Linked DNA regions of Homo sapiens. The protein of the gene in region 1 interacts with the protein of each later gene in a pairwise test. Each region holds a gene or a part of one and is shown in the gene's direction. Other genes may lie near its edges.

The links.
Region 2: the proteins of NUMBL (region 1) and PSMA3 interact in a two-hybrid assay, tested with the Homo sapiens proteins (one large-scale study listed by BioGRID and IntAct).
Region 3: the proteins of NUMBL (region 1) and SPSB3 interact in binary tests that used the Homo sapiens proteins (3 or more experiments, as listed by UniProt).

The regions. Positions count from the first base shown.
Region 1 is NC_000019.10:40,666,652-40,670,300, reverse strand, and holds part of NUMBL (numb-like protein), read left to right. Parts: intron 1-280; coding exon 281-403; intron 404-2,162; coding exon 2,163-2,833; 3' UTR 2,834-3,649. UniProt on the Homo sapiens protein: Plays a role in the process of neurogenesis. Required throughout embryonic neurogenesis to maintain neural progenitor cells, also called radial glial cells (RGCs), by allowing their daughter cells to choose progenitor over neuronal cell fate.
Region 2 is NC_000014.9:58,261,831-58,265,479, forward strand, and holds part of PSMA3 (proteasome subunit alpha type-3), read left to right. Parts: intron 1-1,874; coding exon 1,875-1,940; intron 1,941-3,534; exon of another isoform or gene 3,535-3,649. UniProt on the Homo sapiens protein: Component of the 20S core proteasome complex involved in the proteolytic degradation of most intracellular proteins. This complex plays numerous essential roles within the cell by associating with different regulatory particles.
Region 3 is NC_000016.10:1,776,169-1,779,677, reverse strand, and holds the end of SPSB3 (SPRY domain-containing SOCS box protein 3), read left to right. Parts: exon of another isoform or gene 1-1,065; coding exon 1,066-1,243; coding exon of another isoform or gene 1,244-1,356; coding exon 1,357-1,544; exon of another isoform or gene 1,545-1,629; coding exon 1,630-1,732; exon of another isoform or gene 1,733-1,805; coding exon 1,806-1,931; exon of another isoform or gene 1,932-2,234; coding exon 2,235-2,581; 3' UTR 2,582-2,966; downstream 2,967-3,509. Other genes in the region: structure-specific endonuclease subunit EME2, read right to left, coding at 3,440-3,509.

The DNA.
Region 1 (3,649 bases):
GACAACTCTTCTGGTTTGTGGCCACACACAAATCTTGAGGTCCTTGGTTTGGGGTCCCTGTTACTGTCAGCCGTCAAATGTCACACACTAACTCAGTCGTTCTGCCGCTCAGATGTGACACACACATATGCACAGTTATTTGGCGGTCATGGCCACTTAGTTACTACAGTGGGAAAGGATCCAGGTCAGAAGAGAGGGCCACCGAGGGCGGGGGGTAGAGGGCGGGGCTGCGGCAGGGTCTGGGCCTGTTTGCTGACCTCTGTCCTGCCCTGCTTCCCAGTGCCTGAGATGGAGCCTCCTGGTGCCGGCGACAGTGACAGCATCAACGCTCTGTGCACACAGATCAGTTCATCTTTTGCCAGTGCTGGAGCGCCAGCACCAGGGCCACCACCTGCCACAACAGGTAAAGCCAGGCTTTCTGCTGGGCAGACACCCTGCATGTCCCTCCTGTATCCCCTCCTCTATCCAGGGCTACCCAGACACTCCAGGGGTCTTGGGATCCTACAGGCTTAGAACCATGGATCACCTCAGAGCCAGGGGATCATCCTACAACCATGGATCATCTTAGAGCCATGGGATTACCTGAGAATCATGCGATTACTTTAGAACCATGGATCATCTTAGAGCCAGGGGATCATCCTAGATCCATGGATCATCTTAGAGCCACGGGATTACCTGAGAATCATGCAATCACCTTAAAAGCAGGGATCATCTTAGAGCCAGGGGATCAGCCTAGAACCATGGGATTATCTGAGAATCGTGTGATCATCTTAGAGCCATGGATCATCTTAGAGCCAGGGGATCATCCTAGATCCGTGGTTCATCTTAGAGCCATGGGATTACCTAAGAATCATGTGATCACCTTAGACCCAGGGATCATCTTAGAGCCAGGGGATTATCCTAGAACCATGGATCATCTTAGAGCCATGGAATTATCTGAGAATCATGTGATCACCTTAGAGCCATGGATCATCTCAGAGCCCTTGATCATTTTAGAGCCACGGGATCCCCTTAGAACCATGGGATCATCCTAGAACTATGGATCATCTTAGAGCCATAGGATCACCTTAGAAACACAGATCATCTTAGAACCAGAGGATCATCCTAGAACCAAGGATCATCTTAGAGCCGTGGGATTACCTGAGAATCAAGTGATCACTTTAGAACCATGAATTATCTTAGAGATACGGGATCATTGTAGAGCCACGGGGTCACCTCAGAGGCATGTGCTCATGCTAGAATCTTGGGATCACCTTAGAGCCCAGAGATCGTTTCAGAACCATGGAATCCTTGAGAACCATGTATCATCTTAGAGCCATGGGCTTATCCTAGAACCACAGGTGCACCTTAGAATCTCAAACACTGTAAATGTAGAACTCGAGAATCTTAGAAAGCCCAACCCTAAACTGTCAAACCTTACTATGTTAGGATACTATTATACATGTGGAGAAAGATCCATGCAATCTTAGAATCTTAACTCCTAAAACAATACATTCTGAAGGTATTAGAAAATCAAGGGTGATATTCAAAATAGTGAATACCAGCTGGGTGTGGTGGCTCATGCCTGTAATCCTAGTACTTTGGGAAGCCGAGGCAGGGGGATTACTTGAGGTAGGAGTTCGAGTCCAGCCTGGGCAACATGTTGAAACCTCGCCTCTACTAAAAATACAAAAAATCAGCCGGGCGTAATGGTGCGCGCCTGTAATCCCAGCTACTCAGGAGACTGAGGCACGAGAATTGCTTGAACCTGGGAGGCAGAGGTTGCAGTGAGCCCAGATAGGGCATCCCTGGGCAACAGAGTGAGACTCTCAAAACGAACAGACAACAAACAAAACAAAATAGTGAATCCTAGGCTTGGCACTGACCAGTCAGAAGGGTAGTGGGGCTAGGAGGATGTCAGTCCTACTTAGACTTTCTCATCATAGGGCCTTAGAAGCTCAGAATTGTATGTTCTTAGCACTCCAGAACCATTACGTGGTCCAGAATGGTGAAGTCACTCGCCTGAAGTCAGCAAGCTCGGGAGGTGCAGAGCTGGGATTCAGAGGCAGGCGGTCTGGCTCCAGAGTCCGTGCTCTGATCCCCACACCATGCCAGTTCCCAGCCTGGGGTTCTTCTGCTGAAGCCGTTGCCCCCTCCCTCACCTGTCCCTCTCCTCTCTCCAGGGACTTCTGCCTGGGGTGAGCCCTCCGTGCCCCCTGCAGCTGCCTTCCAGCCTGGGCACAAGCGGACACCTTCAGAGGCTGAGCGATGGCTGGAGGAGGTGTCACAGGTGGCCAAGGCCCAGCAGCAGCAGCAGCAGCAACAGCAACAGCAGCAGCAGCAGCAGCAGCAACAGCAGCAAGCAGCCTCAGTGGCCCCAGTGCCCACCATGCCTCCTGCCCTGCAGCCTTTCCCCGCCCCCGTGGGGCCCTTTGACGCTGCACCTGCCCAAGTGGCCGTGTTCCTGCCACCCCCACACATGCAGCCCCCTTTTGTGCCCGCCTACCCGGGCTTGGGCTACCCACCGATGCCCCGGGTGCCCGTGGTGGGCATCACACCCTCACAGATGGTGGCAAACGCCTTCTGCTCAGCCGCCCAGCTCCAGCCTCAGCCTGCCACTCTGCTTGGGAAAGCTGGGGCCTTCCCGCCCCCTGCCATACCCAGTGCCCCTGGGAGCCAGGCCCGCCCTCGCCCCAATGGGGCCCCCTGGCCCCCTGAGCCAGCGCCTGCCCCAGCTCCAGAGTTGGACCCCTTTGAGGCCCAGTGGGCGGCATTAGAAGGCAAAGCCACTGTAGAGAAACCCTCCAACCCCTTTTCTGGCGACCTGCAAAAGACATTCGAGATTGAACTGTAGCCCGAGCCGCCCCACCCACTCCATCATCTCCAGGTGCCCCACGCCTGGGGGTGGAGGCACAACCTCTCCCCTAACCCTGCTCCCTGGGGCTGCGCCCCTCAACACCCTCTCAACACCCCCCTCCCTCAACCACCCCGACAACCACTACAGAACCAACATTGTGACGCCCAGGTTGCAACAGGATGGAATTCAGGGACGGACCCAGCCTGGCTAAGGGAACCATTTCACTGCCGGACTTAGGCTGGCAATGCCCCCTTCCCCAACCCCAGACACAGGGGTTGGCCACAATCCCACTGAATGCCCTTGGTTCACACTCCATTTCCCAGTTTCTGTTGACCCCCACCTTCCAGTGTTGGACAGGATGGAGGGGGGACACTTGCTTAGGGGCTCTCCTGGGCCCCACACCAGTGCCCACCCCAAATCTGGTCGTCTCCTCCCCCCATGCACAGCACAAGCTAAGGGCTGCCCTCTGCCCACACGCTGCGTTCACTGCCAATGCTGTACTCACCTCCATCACCCTCCAACTTTGGGGCCCATGTCTTCCTTGGGCCAAGGTCTCATGGGGGCTAGGGCCAAGTTGGGGGCCCAGGAGGCGGGGAGGGAGGAGGAGGAGAAGATGCGCAGTTACCTCATGTCGGTGCCCGCTGGGGAGGGGTCCGGGAAGAAGGGGAAGGGGTGCCTGGCGGGTACTTTTCTATCTTTTATTTCCAGATTTTTTTTGTATCTAAACTTGAAGATTTGTATTATACAAGGACAGCCAATAAAGGAAGAATATAATGGTGCCCCTCGGGAAACGAGGGTGTGTGTAGGGCGCTG
Region 2 (3,649 bases), on another chromosome or scaffold:
GTCTCAAACTCCTGGCCTTAAGCAGTCCTCCTGCCTTGGACTCCCAAAATGCTGGGACTACAGGCGTGAGCATCGATGTCCAGCCATGTCATCCCTTTTATTTTATTTATTTATAAGATGGAGTGTCACTCTGTCTCCCAGGCTGGAGTGCAGTGGCTCGATCTTGGTTCACTGCAACCTCTTCCGCCTCCTAGGTTCAAGCAATTCTCCTGTCTCAGCCTCCTGATTAGCTGGGATTACAGGCATGTACTACCATGCCTGGTTAATTTTTGTATTTTTAGTACAGATGGGGTTTTGCCATGTTGGCCAGCTGGTCTCCAACTCCTGACCTCAGGTGGTCTGCCCACCCCGGCCTGCCAAAGTGCAAGGATTACAGGCGTGAGCCACAGTGCCGGACCTAATTTTGTTTCAGACAGCGTCTCGCTCTGTCACCCAGACTGGAGTGCAGTGGCGCCAAACCTCCACCTCCCCAGTTCAAGCAATTCTGCCTCAGCCTCCCGAGTAGGCTGGGATTAGAAGCATGCATCACCACACCCGGCTAATTTTTGTATTTTCAGTAGAGACGAGGTTTCACCATGTTAGCCAGGCTGGTCTCGAACTCCTGATCTCAAGTAATCCGCCCACCTTGGTCTCCCAAAATGCTGGGATTATAGGTGTGAGCCACCTTGCCCTGCCTTCCCTTTTAAAGAGAAGGTTTAAATGTGATTTCTAAGAGCTTTCCCTAAATTATTACCATTTTTTTTTTTTTTTGAGACAGAGTCTTGCTCAGTTGCCCAGGCTGGACTGCAGTGGTGCAATCTTGGCTCACTGTAACCTCTGCCTCCCGGATTCAAGGGATTCTTGTGCCTCAGCCTCTCAAGTAGCTGGGATTACAGGCCTGTACCATCACACCTGGCTAATTTTTGTATTTTTAGTAGAGACAGACTTTCACCATGTTGCCCAGGCTGGTCTGGAACTCCTGGCCTCAAGTGATCCACGTGCCTCAGATTCCCAAAGTGCTGGGATTACAAGCACTTTGTGTGAGCCACTGCACCCGGCCTGTTACCGTTTCTTAACTGTTTTCTTATCCTTACATTTTTGTCGTTTTTACTAATTGAAGAAAATGAAGATTCTTAAATATATTTTGCTGTAACAGAAGTATATATGTGTACATCCTTTTTTTTTTTTTTTTTGATGGAGTCTCACTCTGTTGCCCAGGCTGGAGTGCAGTGGCGCGGTCTCAGCTCACTGCAACCTCTGCCTCCCAGATTCAAGCGATTCTCCTGCCTCAGCCTCTGGAGTAGCTGGCATTACAGGCACCTGCCACCACACCTAGCTAATTTTTTTGTATTTTTAGTAGAGACAGGGTTTTACAATGTTGGCCAGGCCGGTCTCCAACTCCTGACCTGAGGTGATCTGCCCACCTTGGCCTTCCATAGTGCTGGGATTACAGGCATGACCCACCACACCCAGCTGTGCATCCTTATCTTTAAAAAAATTTACAAAATAATAAAATTGGGGGTTTAGAGTACTGAACTCATAGGAATTAACTTTATTTCTGTCTCTCAGGAATATATAATTTCATTTTTCATTGTCATAGTGCTAAAATCTTTTCCGTTCCTGTTCCCCAAAATGTCTTAAAGTGTATATGATTACATAATTTACATATTTTTGGATATACCTTTATTAAAAATACAGGTTGTTTTGGAATTGTTTGGTATTTTAGTATTTTTGAGCCCTTTGGCATTCATCAGAATGTGTTTGACTATATTTTTCTATACTTGCTTTTAAAAGTCATTTAGCATCCTTTCACTAGGTTATAGAAACATTAGTAGTCATTAATTACATATGATAGTGTACTAATTCAGTGATTATATATATTTTTTTCTAAATAGGGTTATTGGGGCTGTGCCATCGGCAAAGCCAGGCAAGCTGCAAAGACGGAAATAGAGAAGCTTCAGGTAATAATTAATGCTTGAATTTTTACTATGTCGTCATCCTAATGCAGTGAAATTTTATCACCACAGACATTTCAGTCTAAGGCAGGGATGTCCAATCATTTGGCTTCCCTGGGCCACACATAAAATACACCAACACTAATGATAGCTGATGAGCTTAAAAAAAAATCTCATCATGTGTTAAGAAAGTTTACGAATTTGTGTTTGGCCCCATGTGGCCTGTGGCTGGGGAAGCTCGGTGTAAGGATATAGTGTGGTTTGATGTTGAGAGTTTATGAAGCTGCTAAGTCACTGAATGGGAAAGCTGGTAACATATTATCTGTAGAGTTGTGTTATACATCCCTTTATAGATTCTGAATAACTGCTATAAAGCCTCAATCTAGAAAAACACAACTTTTGATATGATTTCACAAAATCCTTGAAACCTATTTATGAATCTCTGTGAGCTCTAGTTTGAAAATTTTGTTTAAAATTTTGAGTTAATAAAAAGTTATATTTTTCCTATATTCTTTCTTTGGAACACAGCTTTTATGTCTGGCTGTGCTCCACCGGTTCTCTTAGCTTTGCTCCTAGCCAGGTAAGGCATAAAGCCTACACTCTTACGACTACCCACTTTTTCTTTCACAAAATTCAGCTATTAGTGTGAAAAAGTTTTCTTAAAAACTTGGTTTTCCTTTTAGCCATGCGTTGATCAACTTAAAGACTTCATGGATACTGTTTCAATATTATTGATTACCTGTCAGAAACTTGCCTAAAAAGCAGGCATACCATTTATCAGTGTTTTGGTAAACTGAAGTGAGATACAATTTCACATACATTTAATGTTAATGCTGTACTAGAACCCTGCTCAACTAATTACTCATTCAACTTATTTAAGACCAGCTTCTAGAAAATACTTATTAGTGCTTGGCATTTATACAATGCTAAGTTCTAGAACCCCCTATAAAACCTAATTTGTTTCGTATTTTAGTAAAGCTGACAAAAGGATCTTAGAGGTCATTTAGCCCAAGCTCAACTGCAGATTAAACACACTGCATAGGACCACAGAATCAGCTGGTTCTGAACAGTATCCAGACCTTATGAGTCTTAGACCTATGTTCTTTTCCATTGCACACTTACTAGTATGATGCTAGGTTCCTATCTTCTACTCTTTTCCTTTTGTTTTCATCTCTCCATACTATTATATGGAAATTTGAAAATTAGAATATTTATGTCAGTTGAGGGGGATTACCCCTGTAATCCTACCAGTTTGGTAGGCCAAGTTGGGAGGACTGCTTGAGCCCAGTAGTTCCAAGACCAGGCTGGGCAAAAGAGTAAGACCCTATCTCCCAAAACAAAATGTTAGCGAGGTGAGGTGGTGCGTGCCTGTAGTCCCAGCTACTTGGGAGGCTGAGGCAGGAGGACTGTTTGAGCCCCAGCCAGGAGTTGGGGGCTACAGTGAGCTATGATCACGCCACTGCACTCCAGCCAGGGCAACAGAGCGACACCTTATCTCAAAAAAATAAAGGAAATTAGAATATTTAGAGCAGTTACTATCTGTCTTTCTGTAGTTAAATCCTAGCAAGGAATGGGAAAAACAATAAATCCCAGAGAAAAATCAAGAAAAAAAAATCACTTTAATTGAGGAACACTTTCAGTTTGTGACAAAATTATGCTGTGAATCAGGTGTTGCAAATTATGGCCCACTGCCTGCTTTTGTGTAAGTTTTATTG
Region 3 (3,509 bases), on another chromosome or scaffold:
GCCTGCAGTGCAGGTGCTCAGTTCTGTGCCCGGGCTCCTGACTCAGGGGGTCTACCCTGGCTCTGGGGACCCGCACTTCTAGGCAGTGGGGTAGAGTTGTCTGGGCCTGCCTTGTCTGTGGGGTGGGGCCATCCCCTCCAGAAAGGACAGTGTCCTGCCCTGAAGCTGGCTTTCGATAGGTCCACGTTCACCTGGAAGCTGGTGGCGCCCATGTCATGGTCCCCTGTGGCTTCTCCTGGGGATCACATCATCTCTCTGGACCAGCCCTCAACCCTCACTGTCACAAGGCCTCTGCCACAGGCCCCCCGCCACCACTTAGCACTCTCCCTGCTGACCCCCTGGTCCATTCAGCCCCTGGGTGGCCCCCACACAGTCTGTGACAGGGAGGAGGCTGGGAGGGGCACTGCCTCCCACAAGGAGCTCACGTTCTGGTGGGAGGAGGCCAAGAATCAGGACCAAGGAGAACTTCAGTGAAGCAAAAGAAGAAAAATGGAACAGGGGTGAAGGGGCTGGAGAAGCCTCAGGGAGGTGACAGCTGAAACCTGCACCAGGAGGGGCGGGGCCTGTAGTGGGCACTGGGCAGTAGGACCCTGTGGTGAGCCAGGTCTGCTCAGGTAACAGGAAGGTCGTTGGGCCACAGTGTGGTGGGGACTGCCCTGAGGCCGGGTGGCTGCAGCTGGGCCTGGTGTGGGGGTGGTGGCCTTGCCTGGGGGCCCCTGCAGGGCTGGCCTAGCAGGGAAGGTGTCCACACCATCTCAGCTCTGGGCAGGTGGGGTGGACCTGGGGCTTATCCACCGTCTAGAAACCACTTGGAGGCCAGGCAGCCTTGGCTACTGCTCTGTGGCTGGGCCTCCAGGGCCCTCCTGGTCATGCAGAATGGGGCAGAGCCGGAGCCCGTTGGGAGGGAGCCTGGGCTGTGCGCTCGGGGTACTGTGAAGTCCCTGGAGGCCTGGACCCCCATCCTTTCCTGGGTGGGTCAGGGACAGGGTGGGACAGGGACAGAGGGCAAGGGTGAGAGGGTAGAGAGCGGGCAACAGGTAGTAACAGCCGGCCCTTCTCTCCCAGCACAGCGACTCGGACTCCGACCCCGAGTACTCCACGCTGCCGCCATCCATCCCCAGTGCGGTGCCCGTGACCGGCGAGTCCTTCTGTGACTGTGCTGGGCAGAGCGAGGCCTCCTTCTGTAGCAGCCTGCACTCGGCCCACCGGGGCAGGGACTGCCGCTGCGGAGAGGAAGACGAGTGTGAGCGTGGGGCCCAGCCCCTGCTGGGACTGCACTGCGGGCGGGCCTGGGGGTGGGCAGGGCAGAGCCCCATGGAGCTCTCAGGGCTGCCCCAGCCTGGGCCTCTCTTGCAGATTTCGACTGGGTCTGGGATGACTTAAATAAGTCATCAGCCACCCTGCTGAGCTGTGACAACCGTAAGGTCAGCTTCCACATGGAGTACAGCTGCGGCACAGCGGCCATCCGGGGCACCAAGGAGCTGGGGGAGGGCCAGCACTTCTGGGAGATCAAGATGACCTCTCCCGTCTACGGCACCGACATGGTAAGTTGCTTCGGCCCAGGGTGCTTCTGGGGAACCTGGCTCCGGCAGCCCAGCCCCGCGCCCTCTGCCTGGCCCCTGTTCCTAGATGGTGGGCATCGGGACGTCGGATGTGGACCTGGACAAATACCGCCACACGTTCTGCAGCCTGCTGGGCAGGGATGAGGACAGCTGGGGCCTCTCCTACACGGGTGCGTGAGGCCCAGGGTGGGGCGGGGCCGAGCCTGGAGCTCCCGGGCTCACTGCGACCCTGGCTGCCCCCAGGCCTCCTCCACCACAAGGGCGACAAGACCAGCTTCTCATCGCGGTTCGGCCAGGGCTCCATCATTGGCGTGCACCTGGACACCTGGCACGGCACACTCACCTTTTTCAAGAACAGGAAGTGTATAGGTGAGGCCGTCACAGGACTTGAGCTCCTCTCAGCTGTCACCCCGAGGGAGGCAGCCACCCCGCCCCAGCCCAGGGGACACTGAGGTTTTCTGAAAGGGTTCCTCCCAGAAGCCTGAGGCCCCAGGGTCCCAGGGGGTGGGACAGTGAGGCCAGGCTGGAGTGGCAGGGCCAGCGCGTGCACCCTGCCTTGCCTCAGCTGTGCCAGCTGCCCACCCGGGTGACTGTAGCGTGAGGTCTGAGGGGCTGCGCCCAGTAGCTGGCCCCTTCCCTGCCTGGGGTTCAGGCTGGGCCCCTCCCTTCCAGGTGTGGCAGCCACCAAGCTGCAGAACAAGAGATTCTACCCGATGGTGTGCTCCACGGCGGCCCGGAGCAGCATGAAGGTCACCCGCTCCTGTGCCAGCGCCACTTCCCTCCAGTACCTGTGCTGCCACCGCCTGCGCCAGCTGCGGCCAGACTCGGGAGACACGCTGGAGGGTCTGCCGCTGCCGCCGGGCCTCAAGCAGGTGCTACACAACAAGCTGGGCTGGGTCCTGAGCATGAGTTGCAGCCGCCGCAAGGCTCCAGTGTCCGATCCCCAGGCAGCGACCTCCGCCCACCCCAGCAGTCGCGAGCCTCGGCCCTGCCAGAGGAAGCGCTGCCGCCGGACCTGACTGACTTCCCAGTGGAACTGCCTTCTTGGGCTGGGACAGCCCCTTTCCTCTGTCCCTTCTTTCTCTGTCCCTTCCTTCCAGCCACACTCCAGGGCGGAGTTGGATGAGGCCCGTCCGGAGGGAGCCATCTCTTGCTCCCGAGGCTGGGACAGTCCTTTCTGTGGGGGCTCTAGGGCCCCTCTGCTGCTGTGCTGGGTGGGGAAGCGGCTGCCCTGAGCCCCAGGTCTTGTGGGAGGCTGCGAGGACGAGAGCCTGGCTGGAGCCCGCGTTGCTGTTCCCACAGGGCCTCGGTTTTTCCTAACTTGCTCTGCATGCTGTCAGCGGCTGCCCCGCCGTCATAGACTTAAAGGACTGCAATAAATGTAGAGTTGATGTCTAACACCCACATGGCGTGAGCTGAAACGTATCCGTGCAGAGGCCGGGCTTGCGAGCAGCCTGGGCCTTCTCCCAGGCCTCACTGCCCCTCCACATCCTTGGGAGTCCCCTACTGCTTCTGGCTGAGGGTGCCACACCCCAAGCCTCCAGGTGGCAGTGGGGCCCTGGAGCTGCCTTCTGGTCCCTGCCGAGTGTGTGTGTGTGTTGGGGGGGCACAGCCCTGCTGCTGAGGCCTCCCCTGGGGCCTACGTGTTCAGGACTCAGCACAGGAACCGCCAGCCATCTGCCAGCCAGAAGCCCCTCTTCTCCCAGCTACCTAAAACTTCCCCTGCAACCACCCACCCTTCCCCTGAGGTCAGACCTGCTCAGCCAGAGAACCCACCCAGGCTGAGGGTCCACATGTGGCTGGGGGTCCTCCCCCACCGCCCAGGGTGTCTGGTCTGTCCCCAAGGCTGCATGCTGTCCTGGTGGTCCCACGTGTGGTCAGGAGCCCAGGTCCAGCAGGAGATCAGGGTTGGCTGTGGTCAGGAAGAGGCAGATGCGGCGGGAGAGG